Regions from separate parts of the Homo sapiens genome. Here region 1 is reported to be linked to region 2. The links are microRNA targets in miRTarBase. Many come from high-throughput screens and were not tested one by one. Region 2 holds a microRNA gene; the other region holds the end of a gene's coding sequence.

The links. The annotated mature microRNA hsa-miR-376a-5p reads GUAGAUUCUCCUUCUAUGAGUA and lies in region 2 at 1,886-1,907, shown strand. An mRNA with a match to its seed (bases 2 to 7 or 8) in the 3' UTR can be bound and repressed. Matches are read on the target gene's strand: a 7mer-m8 pairs with bases 2 to 8, a 7mer-A1 pairs with bases 2 to 7 and ends in A, and an 8mer does both.
Region 1: the mRNA of SMPDL3A is a reported target of hsa-miR-376a-5p. The part of its 3' UTR that is shown has no 7-base or 8-base seed match.

The regions. Positions count from the first base shown.
Region 1 is chr6:122,808,986-122,812,279 of GRCh38, forward strand. SMPDL3A (sphingomyelin phosphodiesterase acid like 3A) reads left to right here. Exons shown (of 8, transcript NM_006714.5): 8 at 106-735. The coding sequence ends at 423. Among named protein-coding and RNA genes, the nearest start is that of SMPDL3A, 21 kb to the left of the region's middle.
Region 2 is chr14:101,038,903-101,042,202 of GRCh38, forward strand. It overlaps MIR376A1 (microRNA 376a-1), which reads left to right and starts at 1,880; the gene lies at 1,880-1,947. It overlaps MIR376C (microRNA 376c), which reads left to right and starts at 788; the gene lies at 788-853. MIR376A2 (microRNA 376a-2) reads left to right here and starts at 1,167; the gene lies at 1,167-1,246. It overlaps MIR654 (microRNA 654), which reads left to right and starts at 1,317; the gene lies at 1,317-1,397. It also overlaps MIR376B and MIR300.

The DNA.
Region 1 (3,294 bases), not on the chromosome of region 2:
GCCAAGCCTAAAATGTCACAGAAATTTAAACATGAACGCTTCTTGTTGTACAATGCCTTATGTGCCAAAAAGTGAACCAGGTTTTGTTACTGTTCTTAACTGCAGGATATGTTGCAGTATTACTTGAATCTGACAGAGGCGAATCTAAAGGGAGAGTCCATCTGGAAGCTGGAGTATATCCTGACCCAGACCTACGACATTGAAGATTTGCAGCCGGAAAGTTTATATGGATTAGCTAAACAATTTACAATCCTAGACAGTAAGCAGTTTATAAAATACTACAATTACTTCTTTGTGAGTTATGACAGCAGTGTAACATGTGATAAGACATGTAAGGCCTTTCAGATTTGTGCAATTATGAATCTTGATAATATTTCCTATGCAGATTGCCTCAAACAGCTTTATATAAAGCACAATTACTAGTATTTCACAGTTTTTGCTAATAGAAAATGCTGATTCTGATTCTGAGATCAATTTGTGGGAATTTTACATAAATCTTTGTTAATTACTGAGTGGGCAAGTAGACTTCCTGTCTTTGCTTTCTTTTTTTTTTTCTTTTTGATGCCTTAATGTAGATATCTTTATCATTCTGAATTGTATTATATATTTAAAGTGCTCATTAATAGAATGATGGATGTAAATTGGATGTAAATATTCAGTTTATATAATTATATCTAATTTGTACCCTTGTTGAAATTGTCATTTATACAATAAAGCGAATTCTTTATCTCTAAATATGATGAAGTTTTCTTAACATGATAATTTTTAGTTAAAATCTGTGTATTAACTGAGGTCCAAATTGTTTACCTCTCATATGTAAACAGATGTTACCACTGTTTACATGCACTATCTACTCTTGGGAAAATACCATGGTCATTAGGAGCATGCTGAAACATCACAGGGCATGTATTGCCTAGCTTTCTTCATTCTGAGTCTTTGGCATTGCTAACTTTTAAGGATGAGAATGTCACACATACTTATTGTATCTGCAGTACTAGCACAAGGCCTGGGTCCTAGTCCAGTGCCTGGCACCTAGTAAATAATTGTTGAAATGAATTGAAAGCTGTGAATATTTTTCAAAGAAACGTCCTAGATTACAGTGGTGGCATTTTCTTTGTCACAGTATTCCAGGATAGGATAAAAATGAGCCTTTTATTTAATGGGATTGTTTTTAGGACTCCAATGGCTCAAGCTGTTTTCTGCTTTCAGGTTAAGTAGGAGAATTAAAGTAGAAATGGAAGGGAGAGTGGGAGGGACTGGGGGATTTAAAGGAAGAGAAGATTGTATATCCCAACACTGGCATAGTGGAGAAGACTGTTAAAGAAAAAAAGCTCATCATGACACTTGTTAAAGATGTTAAGGCAGATGTTATCCAAGGTAGGCCATAGTGGTAGGTATAGGGACCACTGCAATGGAATCCTGCAGTGAGGGAGAGAGAGTGGACTCAGTTCTGACTTCAACAAGGCTGAGTGGGGATTTATAACCAAGGAGCAGAGTGGGGATCAGTGAATGGAAAATTACCAGGAGGAAAAACATCAAAGGTAAGAGGTTTCTGGCTATTACCAGGAGGAAAAACATCAAAGGTAAGACGTTTCTGGCTATACCAACTTGATAGGATTATTGCCGAAGGCAGGCCAGTGTGATAGGATATCAAGGGCGGTCAGATACCAAGGGTGGGGCATTCTCCCTAAGCCAACTTAACAGGATTCTTGCTCAAACTGGATCCTGCAAGAACAAAGGAAGCCCAATGTTGGCCTAGTCAAGCAGAGGAATTGGAGGAGCCTGACTAAAGTTTTGGTCAAAAGAGAGAGTCTTTGTCAAGACATAAAATGAGCAACCTTAGATTGAGGAGAATGGAACTCATCATCCTTGTGACTGGCTTGACTTCATGTATTAAAATGACTTTTTGATGTAACATTGCATAATAATGAAACCAAATTATCCTGATTTCCAGAGAGCTAATAAAATAAGTATTACAAAACAAAGATATCATATCTAGGAAACAATCATGATTCATTAGGTAAACTTTCTTTTAAAATTTTTACTTTTTAGTTTTCAACAAACAAATTAGTATGTTTTAAAAGTGAGAATGCTGAAACAAAGCAAATTTTGTTATAAAGTAGTCACATCATTTAGAAAACTTCATGCCTGCAATAATATTTAAAGTTGGTATTTTCAGATGACTAGATTGTGTATTCATACTTTTTTAATTTTTAATTTTCCTGAGTACATAGTAGGTGTATATATTTATGGGGTACATGAGATATTTTGATACAGGCATGCAATGCGTAATAATCACATGAAAAATGGGGTATCTATACTCTCAAGCATTTATCCTTTGTGTTACAAACAATCCAATTATACTATTTTAGTTAGTTAGAAATATACAATCTTCATCTATTCTTATACTTACGGACAGAGGTTCTAAGAAAACAAATTTGCAACATGTAGGAAAATTTAGAAACAGTGAAAAGCAGATATGGTTTTAGCTGACTTGGAAAATGAGTCCGAGCACTGGAAATGGTTGCAGCGTTATTGTGGAGAAAATTTCTGCATCTGTTGGGGGTTTGGGGCAGTGAATATTTAGGGTCTATCCTACTTTATTCTAGAGTTTTTACATTTTTAATTACACATTTTTGTATTCAGTTTACTTTCCTCTTGAAATATAAATGATTTTAAAATCTGAGTGACATTTAGGGACATTATCAACAGTTAAATTGATGTTTCCATTGTAAAACCAGAGCATGTTACAATTATTTATTGTGGTTTATTTCAGATTATGTTCAAATAAATTATGAATTTTATTATGTCCACAGTAAAACTTATCTTAATTTGCCTCTGTTTATTGGTGGTGCTTTGGCAAATTCATAAACTGTATCCTGTTTAGATATAGACACTGCTACTTTGAAGATGGTTTTGAATGAACATTAACCATATATTGGTAGGAAAAAAGGGGGCCGGGAGCGGTGGCTCACACTTGTAAGCCCAGCACTTTGGGAGGCTGAGGCGGGCAGATCACGAGGTCATGAGATCGAGACCATCCTGGCTAACACGGTGAACCCTCATCTCTACTAAAAACACAAAAAATCACCTGGGCGTGGTGGCGGGTGCCTGTAGTCCCAGCTACTTGGGAGGCTGAGGCAGGAGAATGGCATGAACCCAGGAGGCGGAGTTTGCAGTGAGCCAAGATCCTGCCACTGCACTCCAGCCTGGGCAACAGAGGGAGACTCCCTCTCAAAAAAAAAAAAAGTGGGGGGAGTTGGGGGAGTAAAAGTGAAGAGAATAGGAAAGAGT
Region 2 (3,300 bases):
ATTAGGTGCCTTGGGAGGGCTTCATGGAGGCGATGTGACTTTAGGAACCTGACAGGCTTATTTTCTTTTTGTTTTTGATATTTTTCGAATTCAAAGCATAGAATCCCTACTTTGCCTGCTTTACTTGTGGCAAATTTTTGATGTACATTCACTTTTTTTTTTTTTTTTTTTCAGAATTAAATGCTACTTTGGAAACGCTCTTGACCATGAAGCCTCCATTAGGGAAGAGACATTAGGGTTACCCCCACCCAGACGAGTGACAGCAGGGCAGACCCCAAACTTACGTTTGCCTGCATAGGAGTTCCATCTCTGGATGTGAAGAGGCCAGGGGTGGGCCCTGCGCTTCCCACGTGGGACTCGCAAAGTGCTCACCTGCTTCTGTTACCTTCTGTCTTTCATGAATCATGTTTGCGTTTGTGCTCTCCAGGGCTGTTCCCACTTTTCCCATCTAAAAGGTGGATGTTCCTTCTATGCTTACAGGATTTATGGTGAATCATAGAGGAAAATCCGCATTTTCAGTATCTAAGGCTGCTTTTAAAACATTTCTGAACATTTCTGAGAGGAAGGTTAGCTCCCTCCCCCATGCGGAGAGTGATGGAAGGTGAATCCCAGAACCTAAGCTCTTGTTAGCAAGGTCTGTCCTGGGACATGCGTCCTCCGCAGGGCCCATGTCACTGCCGCTAGCCCGGGAGGCCCCTGCCGACTGCACCTATCCTGTGCTGTCTTTAATTTTGATAGATTGTGCTTAGGTTCATGCTTTCCAGGACTCAATCCTTCTTTGGTATTTAAAAGGTGGATATTCCTTCTATGTTTATGTTATTTATGGTTAAACATAGAGGAAATTCCACGTTTTCAGTATCAAATGCTGCTTGGAAACATTCCTGGACTGAAACCACCATCAGGGAAGAGACAATAAAGTCCCCCCCCCCACTCCAGGGTAAGTGGAAAGTCGGTGGACCTCAGAACATGTGCTGAATTCGTGCCATATGTCTGCGGACCACCCACCCGCCTTGAGGAGACCCCTCTCGCAAGCTGCCCGCTCGGCCAAGCGGCTGGGCTCCGTCGTCATTTTCTCCATGAGGCCGAATGCTCTCCTCTGTGCTATGTTACTTTTGTGTTTGATGGATTGTACTTAGGTTCGTGCTTTCCGGGATGAAACCTTCTTTGGTATTTAAAAGGTAGATTTTCCTTCTATGGTTACGTGTTTGATGGTTAATCATAGAGGAAAATCCACGTTTTCAGTATCAAATGCTGCCTTGGGATCATGGCTGGACTGAAGCCACCATCAGGGACGTGAGGTGGGGCTGAGCCCTCCAGGGTAAGTGGAAAGATGGTGGGCCGCAGAACATGTGCTGAGTTCGTGCCATATGTCTGCTGACCATCACCTTTAGAAGCCCCCTTTCGCTGAGGAGCCAGCTTGGTGCACAGGCTGTGGTGTGTTGTCACAGCTATGCTACGGGACTGAAAACGGTTGCTTTACTGTCTTGCTTCCATTTTCCATGAACTGTGTTCAGATTTGTCCTTTCCAGAGCCCAGTCCTTCTTTGGTATTTAAAACGTGGATATTCCTTCTATGTTTACGTGATTCCTGGTTAATCATAGAGGAAAATCCATGTTTTCAGTATCAAATGCTGCTTTGGAAATGTTTCTGGAAGAGACCGTAGGGCCTGAGTAGGTGCAAAGATGGTAGGCCGCACGTCGTATCTGAATGAACGGGGTATGCCCGAGAACCATCTCGAGACGCCAACTTGGTGAAGATTAAATTGTGGGTCTCGTGGTGCCAGTTCTTCCCTGGAAGCTCGTCTGCCTCATGTGACTTTCTTTTCTGATGACTCAAGCACAGGTGCACGCTTTCCTGGATGGAATCCTTCTTTGGTATTTAAAAGGTAGATTCTCCTTCTATGAGTACATTATTTATGATTAATCATAGAGGAAAATCCACGTTTTCAGTATCAAATGCTGCTTTGAAAACCTCGGAGGACGTGAAGTCGCCATGGAAGAGGAGATGTTATCTGTACCCCTCCTGGGTACAGGACGGACAGACACAGAATTGTACTTTGTATGAAATACGCCGTCAGCTTCTCTGCTGTTTGCTCACTGCCCTTGGTGCACACATAATGTGTTGTTACAAGGCTGTGTTCTCAGTATTGCCTCATTGACCTTGAATGAAGTTTGTTCTCTGTATGTTTACCATGATTGCAATGCATTTTCTGGAATGAACCTCTTTTACTGTGACTAGTTGTACCTTAGAGAATACCTGAGTGGGCTGTCAATTTCAGGAAGGGGCACTGCTTCAGGGGCTATGGAAGGAATAGATGTGTGATTCACCCACGGGCCTGCACTTCACACCTCGGTGTGCTGCTCTCACCATGCAGATCCCATCTGTGTCTCTAAGGCTTGCTCCTGGAGCTGGTGGCAACTTAGTCACAGAGGAAATGGCCTTCCTGTCACTGCCATCATTTGCTACTTGAAGAGAGGTAATCCTTCACGCATTTGCTTTACTTGCAATGATTATACAAGGGCAGACTCTCTCTGGGGAGCAAATCCTGCCTGGGAAGCCTTCTTGGGAACAAGGCTGACTCCAGCAACCTGTTAGATGGCCAGGATAGCCCTGGGGTGTGGATGGTTGACCACAGGGCATGTGCCTCTGTCTTGCTGTTTGTGACCTGGTTCTCTGACCCTCCTCATCTCATGCTTCCTTCCAAGAACTTTCTGGAAGAGATGCTGGCTTTGGAGATGATATAGGGTTTTCTCTTCAGACCACCTGTTCTGCCTAGCAAAAAGGGCCTACCTTGGCCGGGCACGGTGGCTCACGCTTGTAACCCCAGCCCTTTGGGAGGCTGAGACGGTGGATGGCTTAAGCCCAGGAGTTCGAAACTAGCGTGGGCAACTTGGCGAAACCCCATCTCTGCAAAAAATACAAAAATTAGCTGGGTGTCATGGTGTGCGCCTGTGGTCCCAGTACTTAGGAGGTTGAGGCTGGAGGATCACTTGAGCCCGGGAGTTGGGAGGTTGTAGTGAGCCAAGATTGTGCCACTGCACTTCAGCCTGGCTGACAGAGACCCCTGTCTCAACACAATAGGTTAAAAAAAAAAGAAAAGAACAAAGGGCCTCCCTTGATGGGCCCTACTTATCACAAAGCATCCATGGGCTGCTACTCCGGCAGGTCTGCCCAGCATGATGCCAGCCTCTGAGAAGAGGTCTCGTGGTCAGTGCATCTCCCAGATACATGAAAGAATGACCGTCAGCAAAGTCAATGTCTAATGTAGATGTGGGTCATCTGGTCTACCCACTCTCCATA